3 linked regions of the Homo sapiens genome follow. The protein of the gene in region 3 purifies or fractionates together with the protein of the main gene of each other region. This does not show direct contact. Each region holds a gene or a part of one and is shown on either strand. Other genes may lie near its edges. The genes, in order: TCEAL8, TIMP2 and NPEPPS.

Region 1 (3,819 bases), on a different chromosome or scaffold from region 3:
GAGGTTTACATTTCTTTTTAAAGTTCTTTCATCAAGAGTTTAGGTGCCCCCATTGCCCTCATAAGCTGGTTGCAAATTATTTGACTCTTACTTGTAAAAAAAATCCTTAATTCTTTTTGTGTGTGAGACACGTGTTCATTAAAAAGTACATATAAGCAAAAAGAACAAAAAGAAGAAAACAAATAAAATTTCACACCACACAGAAATAAGCTTGGTTAAGTTTGTGATATATGTTATATGGATGTATGTATACACACACGCACACACACAAAGTTTGGAATTTTATCCTACATATGTGAGCTGATATTAAATATGCTGCTTTGCCATAACCTGTTATGTTTTACTTTACAACATGGAATGAACATATTCCCATGCAAATGTGTGAAAGTTTCCAATTGAAAAATAGACCTGGAAAATGGGTCAAAATCCAAAATCCAATGAGATGCTGGTACCAAGGAAATTACCTAAAACAAAATTTCATCAGATGATTAAAAGTAAAATGGAGGTCAAAGATACATCAGAAAATGCTAACAGAAAGAAAGCTGGGGCCAGATTTTAATATTAGGCAAAAATGAATTCAAGGCCTAAAGCACACAGGATAAGGACGGCTGCGTGAATGTCTTTGCTTCCAATGCATCATCACAAACTTGTTTCTTACTCTTCTTATCTCTTCCCTAAGCCTTTCAAGCTCATCTACTCCTCTTATCATTTCTTCAGGGTCCAAATGCCTAACGGGTGTGTCCTCTTTAAATCCCTGGCCAGGCTGATTCGGCCCTCCTCTGGGGTTTCCTTCTGCTTCCTGGCTTACGCCTTCTTCGGAAGGTTGAGGATTTCCTTCTGCCTCCTGTGGTACATCCTCCAAAGGGCGATCTTCCTCGGCCTTTGGCATGTTCTGTGGTTTTCCCTCATTTTCTTCACAAGACTTTTGCATATTGAGTATTTTTTATTTCCTTTTTGAATAAATTAATCCTAGAAAACAAGGAAACAAAACTACTAGATTCCAGGCAAACAGACCAGCAGTCAGAGTATGGGGTCCCATAGCGACTGGCCTTTTTTGACTCAGTACCCTAATTGTCAAAAGTTTTCCAACTAGAGAAAGCTGGATCCTCAGGCTCAGAACTCCCCTGACTCCACCTCCCTTCGCGCCCCCTTTCGTTCCAGCTCCATCTTTCTCCTCCTGCTCCTGCCCACCATCTTCCCAGCAGGCCCTGCTACAAGCCTCTCCTAATACTGAAATGGGAGCAGTACGGAAGCAATTAACCCTTCTCCCGCCTCTGGTCTCCAACACTCCCGCCCTTCAGACTTTCCCAGGCCCTCTCAACCTCCAGCCTCTCACCTGAGACGGCTGGTCCAGTCTCTGGCCTCCCCTCCCCCTTCAGCGTCTCTTAAGCCTCCTCCTCCCCCGCCTCATTTCCGCTGCAGGCTCGGCACCGGCCTCTGGCACTTAATCCGGATGGGGAGGGGCTGCTGCGACCCCAGGATGTGCTTTGGTGTCACTCACACTTCCACCCCCACCCGAAGAGACCTGAAGCAATTGCACCTTTACAAAAACTGACCTGCAGGGATTCAGGGGATTTTCCTCTCTCTTCCCTCACCTCGATTTGTGTCGCGCCCAAAAAACCAAATATCCTGCAGACAGATGGGAGTGTTTGGTGAGCAGACTAGTACCTGGATCACGGGTCCCTTTCATGATTCTAGGCCATGTTGGTGTAAAGTTTCCCATGTCCTCATCCTCGCCCTCCTTTTATGGCAACCCCGCCCTCCTCCGTGCCCACCGTTTTTCTGCAAGCAGGGAGTAGGAAAAGCAAGTTTCTTCCAAACAGTTTCTATGTCTCTCTCTCAGGACCCTTAATTAGCTACCCTTCTCTCTCTCCACCCGCCATCCCCCACCAAACAGCCCCAAATTTCCTGCACAAAATGGGAGTTTGGCGGAACAGAAGTGGGGAAAGCAGTGCCGGCCCCGCTTGCTTTCTGCTCTCGGCCTCCTCGACCCCAGGGTCTCCAAGTCAGCGCCCACGTTTATACTAACCTGAAAGGATCTTGGGCACTTTTCTCCTTCTCCAGCAATAAGGAGCTGCTACAGGGAAACAGGCCCTGGACTATAAGGACTTCTGCACACGTCGACTCCTGGTCACGTGAGAGTCGCGTCATCACTGAGCTCGAGTCCCCAGTTACCCCTCCCATTAACACTGCAGCCCGCCCGCTGCGTTCCCTCCACTTGATACTGTCAATCTTTTTTCGTATTTGCCAATCGGAGACAATAAACTGTTATCTTCGCCCTGGAGTATTTATTCGCCTTTCTCAGATTACCAGGAGGATCAGCCTTTTAGGGGTAATCGACCATTTCTCCTTCTTTGAGGAATCATCTCTTTCTTCTGCTCCCAATACTCCCACCTCCCCTCCTCCAAGACCCCTACAGTCCACCATTTCCCCTGGAATCCTATCCAGCATTGAAATGGGCAAAGGTGGTAGATCGGGAAGAGGGGGCTGGAAAAGAATCTAAGGTTGAAAGTGGAGGATTTGACTAATCCTCTTGAATAGTTTTCTGTTGTGTTCTATGTTTTCAGCAATCAGCATACTTTTAAAAATGGTATCAGAAAACGGATGCCTCATAAGCAATATGTAACACTTAATATGAAGGACAAATTAGTTATATCAATGTGTAAGACTTTGGAAAAGTTTTCTAATGGCTGGAAATGAAATGACAATATTCACAACATATTGATGTGTTAGAATTTTTTAAAATCTTACCAAACAGCACTTAAAAAATTGACTCCCAAATTAATGTGTGGAAGGAGGCCTAGTTTTCTCTTGTTAGCAATTTTGTATAGGTAATCTACTACTCTTTCTATTTCTGGCAGAACTCAAGTTATCAAGTGTTGGATGTCTGATCTTTTTCATTGATGACCACTGGTGGCATCCACTAAGGTTTCACTTGGAGGCTTCAGACAGACTTCCTCCCCATTTCCTCTATAGGATTCAGTATCTTGTTAATCAGATAAGTCCACAGAAAAGCCTGCTTTCCACTGAGTAAAATTCTTTTGGAACTCAAAGTAGTATGTTTCTTGGAAAACATTTCGTTGTTGGGAAATAACTCATACACTCATGAAACACTCAGAAAAGAGAATTCTCTGTATCTCACCATCAGGCTTGAGGCTTCTTTGCATGGCATTTTCATTCATGGCACTCTTGAGATAGTCTGGTATCATCCACTGTGTCCCATTAAAAGAACTATTGACATGCATAATTGTTATGATTAGAAAGCAAAGAGAACAACATTGCTGTAAAAAATAATATTAAACAGGAAACTGATATCCCTGCAACTCAGAATCCACTGGTACTTGGAAGGATGGTGGTGCCTGGAGTGGCATTCTGGCCAATGGAGCCAGCTGGAGAGTCAGAAGAAGACAGAGGGGGTCTTTTGTCTAGGGTGGTCACAGCAGGATGCCTTAGCCAACAAGAACACCCACCAGAGAAGAGAAAAGAAGGTTTGGAAAAAATAAATATTTTTTGGACTTAATGATTTATAGTTGAAGCATGACAAATTTCTTCCACACTTGAGGGATAAATGTTCTATTGTTTGAGAGAGAGCTTTTAATATAAATATAACTAGCAAATTATAAAGATTTAATCATTGCCTATCACCAAATGTTTCCACTCTTTTAAATGTAACCATTTAGTGAGGAACAACTCTGATCTTTTAAAAGAAAAATCATCAGCAGCAAAATGGACTTTGTGTGTGTGTACACTTCTATGAAGTTTAACCAATGTATAGATTTGTTTAACCACCACTGCAATCAGAATACAGTTCAATCACCC
Region 2 (3,719 bases), about 31 Mb from region 3:
GTGTGGTGGCGTGTGCCTATAATCCCAGCTACTTGAGAGGCTGAGGCAGGAGAATCGCTTGAACCTGGGAAGCGGAGGTTGCAGTGAGCCGAGATAGTGCCATTGCACCCCAGCCTGGGAAATAGAGCGAGACTCTGTCTCAAAAACAAAAAAAAGAGTAAGGAAATTCTGATGTATGCTGTAACGTGAACGAACCTTGAAAACATGATGCTACTGAAATAAGCCAGACAGAGAGGACAAACACTGCAGGGTTCCACCCATGTGAGGCCCCTGGAGTAGTCAAATCCACAGAGACAGAAAGTAAAATGGAGGTGGGCCAAGGCTGAGGAAGAGAGAAGGGGGAGTTAGTGTTTAACGGGGACGGAGTTTTGGTTTGGGAAGATGTGGAGACAGATGGTGGTGATGGTTGCACAATAGCGAATGTATCTAATGCCACTGAAGTGTACACTTGAAAATGGTTGGCCGGGCGCGGTGGCTCGCGCCTGTAATCCTGCCACTTTGGGAGGCCGAGGTGGGTGGATCACCTGAGGTCAGGAGTTCGAGACCAGCCTGACCAACACGGTAGAACCCCATCTCTACTAAAAATACAAAAATTAGCTGGGCGTGGTGGCGTGTGCCTGTAATCCCAACTACTCGGGAGGCTGAGGCAGGAGAATCGCTTGAACCCAGGAGGTGGAGGTTGCAGTAAGCCAAGATCGCACCACTGCACTCCAGCCTGGGCGACAGAGCGACACTCTGTCTCAAAAAAAAAGAAAGAAAGAAAGAAAGAAAGAAAGAAAATGGTTAATTAACATGGCTACATTTTGTTACGTATTATTTTACCACAATAAAAAAAGGAGACAGATGAATGAATAAGTCAAGCAGGTCTCGTGCATAGTATCCACAGATGTTACGCGAGCTTTTGGCCCTCCCGACGGCAGAAAGGGTTTCTCTGCCCTGCATGTCTCCAGCATCCCGCACTCGCCTCCCTTTTAGGAACAAAAGGCAAAAATGCTCCCTTTTTTTTGTCCACCAATCTCAAATTTCCCAGGAAATTGGCAGGTAGTGAACATTCACTAGCATTCTCTGACGGGAAGTGGCCGAGAGGGCTCCGTACCCTGCCTCACTGTTCCTCAGCTACTCCGCCTCCCCACCCCCCGAGCCTGGGAAACGAGCCCTGGACCGCGTCTAGGAACAGCCCCACTTCTGTGCCAGCCTCCGGCTGATGGCCCCACTCATACACACCTGCAATGAGATATTCCTTCTTTCCTCCAACGTCCAGCGAGACCCCACACACTGCCGAGGAGGGGGCCGTGTAGATAAACTCTATATCCTTCTCAGGCCCTTTGAACATCTGGAAAGACAAGGAGGAGGACATGTAAGCAGAGGGAGGCCACACAGTTGGTGAATTCCGTTCCCATCCAGAACACCCTGGGCGGCACAACCTGTAGCTGGGGTACAGCCAGCACCCAAGAGGACCAGGAAGTGCAAATACATGGGTTAGGAAAAGACCGTTCCAGCTGGGCTCAGGGCTCATGGCTGTAGTCCCAGCACTTTGGGAGGCTGAGGTGGGCAGGTCGCTTGAGGTCAGGAGTTTGAGACCAGCCTGGCCAACGTAGCAAAACCCTGTTTCTACTAAAAATACAAAAATTAGCTGAGCATGGTGGCAAGCGCCTGTAATCCCAGCTATGTGGGAGGCTGAGGCAGGAGAATCGCTTGAACCTGCGAGGTGGAGGTTGCAGTGAGCTGAGATGGCGCCACTGTACTCCTACCTGTATGACAGAGTAAGACTCCGTCAAAAAAAAAAAAAAAAAAAAAGAAAAGAAAAAGACTTCTTATAGCAAAGTGATTCTTTGGAGTCACTCAACTTTTAGTGTGGCAGATCACAGCAGGTGAGCACAAGACTCATCTGTGCCGGGCGAAGTGGCTCACACCAGTAATCCCAGCACTTTGGGAGGCCGAGGCAGGCAGATCACGAGGTCAGAAGATCGACACCATCCTGGCTAACATGGTGAAACCCTGTCTCTACTAAAAATACAGAAATTTAGCTGGGCGTGGTGGCGGGCGCCTGTAGTCCCAGCTACTCGGGAGGCTGAGGCAGGAGAATGGCGTGAACCCAGGAGGCGGAGCTTGCAGTGAGCCATGATCGTGCCACTGCGCTCCAGCCTGGGAGACAGCAAGACTCCATCTCAAAAAAAAAAAAAAAGACTGTCATCTGGAGCATGACATCCTCAGACAACACCTCTGTTCCCTCACCCCCCACCCCAAAGAGGTCATTTCTGAATCTATGGGGAGGGGCTTTTGTACCTCCACGTGACTCTGGACCACCATGAAGGACCATGACTTTTGCATATTTCCAGGAATTTTTTATTTTTTTGAGATAGGGTCTCACTCTGTTGCTCAGGCTGGGGCTGCAACCTCAACTTCCCAGGCTCAAGTGATCCTCCCACCTCAGCCTCCCGAGTAGCTGGGACTATAGGCGCATGCCACCATGCTTGGCTTTTTTTTTTTTTTAATTAGCAGAGACGAGGTCTCGCTCTATTACCCAGGCTGGTCTCAAACTCCTGAGCTCAAGCAATCCTCCTGCCTCGGCCTCCCAAAGTTCTGGGATTACAGGCATAAGTCACTCCACCCAACCTATATTTCCAGGAATTTTGGTCAAATATTGTCTACTTGATGGCAATGAGAGCAGAGAGGCACCTCAGGAATTAGGACATAACTCCATGGGCCAGAAGAGTTTGCTTTCTCAACATGTGATTTACTCACAGCCTTTCAGGAACGCACCTGCTGCCCAGGTGAAGAATGGCATTTTCTCAGCACTCAGGGAGGCTGTTTTTTTCCCCCCGAAGAGTTTCAATAAGCAAACCCAAATGGAATGGAAGCATGCCTGATGTCATGACAAATGGCTTGAGAGTGACACTCCAGCTTGTACCAGGAAAGGTTATGTTGATGCTGTACTAAATGACATCATTTGCCAAAAGGCTAAAAGCATTTCCTGGGCACTGGCACTGGCCTTTTCACGACCCCTTTATGAGGTCGTAAGAGCAGATCCTCTTTCCTGCTTCGTAAAGAAAGAGACTCAGGCACTGAGAGACTAGGTCATCCCCTTAAACTGACATACATGTGATGATGAAGCATTCCACTGACCTTCTGATAACATTGATTTTCAGCTACTTTTTTTTTTTTCTTTTTTTGAGATGGAGTTTCGCTCTTGTCGCACAGGCTGGAATGCAGTGGTGCAATCTCAGCTCACGGCAACCTCTGCCTCCCAGGTTTAAGTGTTCTCCTGCCTCAGCCTCCCAAGTAGCTGGGATCACAGGCACTCGCCACCACGCCCAGCTAATTTTTGTATTTTTAGTAGATACATGGGGTTTCTCCATGTTGGCCAGGCTGGTCTTGAACTCCTGACTTCAGGTGATCCACTCACCTGGGACTATACTCATGAGACACTGTGCCTGGTTTACTTTTTATTTTTAATGACAAAATTAAATATCGATGACTACAACTACCACCATATCACACGGCTGTCCCTCCACCTGCGACATGAATTTTCGTCTCTCTTACAGACCATGTTAGTTACTGTCAATGACAATAGCATCACCTCTCCTGCCCCAGGCCAGGCCCTGCCCTCCCTGCCCTCCCTGCCACATATTTTTTTTTTTTTTTTTTAATACAAGCTCTCACTCTGTCACCCAGGCTGGAATACAGTGGTGAGATGTCTCACTGCAACCTCTGCCTCC
Region 3 (3,511 bases):
CTACCGCCAGATGCTCACTTTAAAATCTTACACCCTCAGACAGTAGCACCAAAGGGAGGGGTGTCCATCTGCATTCTTGAAATGTGCACGGAAGTGGGGGAAGGTAGAAAAATTTACACCATATCGTAAAGCAGAAGCTACTCAACTGTGATTAGGAGGGAAGCCCTTTTGAAATCAGTGATTTGAAAAGATAAGGCAGGGTAACACATCATTAACATACCTATAAGTAACAAGGCCCCAGTTCTCCATGGCACCTTCACAAAATAAATATAAACATTTATTGATATATATATATATATATATACTCTTGCATCAAAAGTCACAAAATTTTAAAAAGTTATTACAATTCAGCAATAAAATGAAATTTACTTTACCAGCTGCAAAGTCTGCAATAGCAATGAGATCAATTTTAGGTAGAGGATAAGGAACATTGAAGTAGTCCTTATAAAAAGGCAAGGTTTTAGCAGCAACCTATAAAAGTATAAACAAAATAACCATCTAATAAATATGTTATTATAATTCATATTGAAACCCACAAAGGAATCCTGTTGCAAGCCAATGTATCTTAAATTACTAGAAATGAATCCCGAGGAGCCCTACCCTCCGAAGACTGCCTTAGCTCCAAACTTTGAATACAATGGCCAAACTTTAATCCATTTATAACTTGATATGAAAAATATAACTACATATTTTCCAACCCATTCCCTAGAGAAATTCCACTCTTATATTCTCTTAATTATTATTTTGTAAAATAATGAAACACCAAGGTTGGCATTTCCTAAATTCTACTAAAAATAAACCAAGTAGCACAACTTTCAGATTAAATTATAAATAACTGTACTAATAATTGACCAGAAATGTAAATTCCCCAACCTGGAGTTATGGACTGTTGGAACAATCCTCTTCAAGTACATTTACCTCTAACGCAAATTTTCCTTGCTCTGCTTTGCCAACAGGAGTGTAAACACGGACACACACACCATCTTTTGACCTTGTTTCTACAAAGTCATATTCACCCACAACAAATGCCACCAGATATGTAGACATAACAGGTGTGCGGGCAAACTTCACTTCCACTAAATTTTCATCATCAGGGTATGGTTTCCGGTCAATTACATTCTTTAAGAAATAAAAAAAAGAAAAATTTAAATAGGTTTACATTAATACCATAGAGCAAATACCAGCCAAAAACTGTAGGCTTTATTGCATCTCTTTACCCCTTTCTATTCTAGCATGGCTTATTTCTCTACCCCAATTCATCCAGTGCTTTTATGCTGTCTTTAAGAAGGAAAGTGGTCTGATAAAACACTCATACTAAGAAGCTGGAGGCTGAAGTGTTAAAACTACCAAGGACCTGTGAAAGAAAAGAGGAATGGACTTTTCTCAAATACTTATTATAAGCCAGGCATTGGGATGATTTAAGTTAAGGGCTTCATACTTTTCAACTGACATAAGTTTAGGAGAAAATGACTATTAATAAAAATAAAATAGGGGCTAGGCGCGGTGGCTCACGCCTGTAATACCAGCACTTTGGGAGGCTTAGGCAGGCGAATCACAAGGTCAGGAGATCAAGACCATCCTGGCTAACATGGTGAAACCCCATCTCTACTAAAAATACAAAACATTAGCCAGGCATGGTGGGGGGTGCCTGTAATCCCAGCTACTTGGGAGGCTGAGGCAGGAGAATGTCGTGAACTAGGGAGGCGGAGCTTGCAGTGAGCTGGGATCACACCACTGCACTCCAGCCTGGGCGACACAGCGAGACTCCTTCTCAAAAATAAATAAATATAATATAATTGTAGAATCTCCCATTTCAAAGGATACAAACTTCTAGATCGAGGGCATTCTCTACCAAAGTTGGCTCTAAGCTTATTTGTGAAGAAATTTCAACTTTACCTTTGGAGTCCCTAATTTCCTTTGGTGTTCTCCCTCTTTTTCCTATTCAGGCTCTGTTTCCTCAAGCTCTCTCTATTCTTCCTTCCAAGGAAGACTTATTCAAGAACACACTGATAAATTCACTCATACTAAAGTGTGAATGAATATTTCCGTTTAATATATTAGCCTCCTCTTCTAAGAATATGTGAGAAGAGAATGACATTCTATTTATGGGATGCTCTCCCCCAATAAATACATAAAAGAGTTATTTTCAGGTGCAGCAGGTTTTTCCAAGTTCCCCACACAAGACAGTCCTAGACAACACACTTCAAGTGGGGAATGCTTACCCTGTTCATGAATGAGATCAATAACACTGGTGAAGAGAATACATTCCAAGAATACAAACAGCCAGAGACCTAAATATACTTCATTACGCAGCTACATCTTTTGAATTTTTTTAACTTTTTAAAAACATAAGAGACAGGGTCTTGCTCTGTTGCAACCTTTTTTTTTTTTTTCCCCCGAGATGGAGTCTTGCTCTGTCACCCAGGCTGGAGTGGAGTGGCGCGATCTCAACTCACTGCAGCCTCCACCTCCCAGGTTCAAGCAATTCTCCTGCCTCAGCCTCCCAAGTAGCTGGGGTTACAGGTGCCTGCCACCATATCTGGCTAATTTTTGTATTTTTAGTAGAGATGGGGTTTCACCATGTTGGCCAGGCTGGTCTCGAACTCCTGGCCTCAAATGATCCACCTGCCTCAGCCTCCTGAAGTGCTGGGATTACAGGCATGAGCCACCATGCCTGGCCTATTTTTTTTTTTTTAAGAGATGGGGTCTTGTTCTGTCACCCAGGCTGGAATACAGTGGCACAATCACGGCTCCCTGTAGCCTCAAACTCCTAAGTTCGAGAGATCCTCCCACATTAGCCTCCCAAGTAGTTAGGATTACAGACACGTGCCACCATACCTGGCTAACTTTTAAGTTTTAAATCTTTTGTAGAAATGAGGTCTCACTATGTTGCCCAGACTGGTGTCAAACTCCTGGCCTCAAGCAATCCTCCTGCCTTAGCCTCCCAAAGCACTGAGATTACAAGCAAGAGTCACTGTACCTGGCTTTCTTATGACATTTAATAAGTCAAGACCTTTTTCTTTTTTTTTTTTCTGAGATAGGGTCTGGCTCTGTCACCCAGGCTGGAGTGCAGTGGTGTGATCTCAGCTCACTACAAACTCCGCTTCCTGGGTTCAAGTGATCCTCCCACCTCGGCCTCCCAACTAGCTGGGACTACAGGTGTGTGCAACCACACTCAGATAATTTTTGTATTTTTAGTAAGGACAGGTTTTCACCATGTTGGCCAGGCTGGTCTTCAACTCCTGACCTCAAGCGATCTGCCTACCTTGACTTCCCAAAGTGCTGGGATGACAGGTGTAAGCCACCATATCCAGCCCAAGACCTTTTGCTTTTAGTTACTATAAATCTATTAAACTTGTCAATTTACCTCTCTAAATTAAAAGAAGTAGATAATCTTATAAATGTATTTAACGAGGAATTTGACAAAGAGAAAATCCTCCAAAAATAAAGCTATCAAGAAAAAGAGGTCTTGGCTGGGCATGGTGGCTCATGCCTGTAATCCCAGCACTTT

Evidence for each region.
Region 1: the proteins of NPEPPS (region 3) and TCEAL8 purify together in Homo sapiens (affinity purification with mass spectrometry; one large-scale study listed by BioGRID and IntAct). This does not show direct contact.
Region 2: the proteins of NPEPPS (region 3) and TIMP2 purify together in Homo sapiens (co-immunoprecipitation; one large-scale study listed by IntAct). This does not show direct contact.

What each region holds. Positions count from the first base shown.
Region 1 is NC_000023.11:103,253,049-103,256,867, forward strand, and holds the start of TCEAL8 (transcription elongation factor A protein-like 8), read right to left. Parts: upstream 2,108-3,819; 5' UTR 2,030-2,107; intron 1,630-2,029; 5' UTR 1,557-1,629; intron 970-1,556; 5' UTR 932-969; coding exon 578-931; 3' UTR 1-577. UniProt on the Homo sapiens protein: May be involved in transcriptional regulation.
Region 2 is NC_000017.11:78,869,674-78,873,392, forward strand, and holds part of TIMP2 (metalloproteinase inhibitor 2 precursor), read right to left. Parts: intron 1,334-3,719; coding exon 1,225-1,333; intron 1-1,224. UniProt on the Homo sapiens protein: Complexes with metalloproteinases (such as collagenases) and irreversibly inactivates them by binding to their catalytic zinc cofactor. Known to act on MMP-1, MMP-2, MMP-3, MMP-7, MMP-8, MMP-9, MMP-10, MMP-13, MMP-14, MMP-15, MMP-16 and MMP-19.
Region 3 is NC_000017.11:47,583,108-47,586,618, reverse strand, and holds part of NPEPPS (puromycin-sensitive aminopeptidase), read right to left. Parts: intron 1,120-3,511; coding exon 919-1,119; intron 472-918; coding exon 375-471; intron 255-374; coding exon 221-254; intron 1-220. UniProt on the Homo sapiens protein: Aminopeptidase with broad substrate specificity for several peptides. Involved in proteolytic events essential for cell growth and viability. May act as regulator of neuropeptide activity.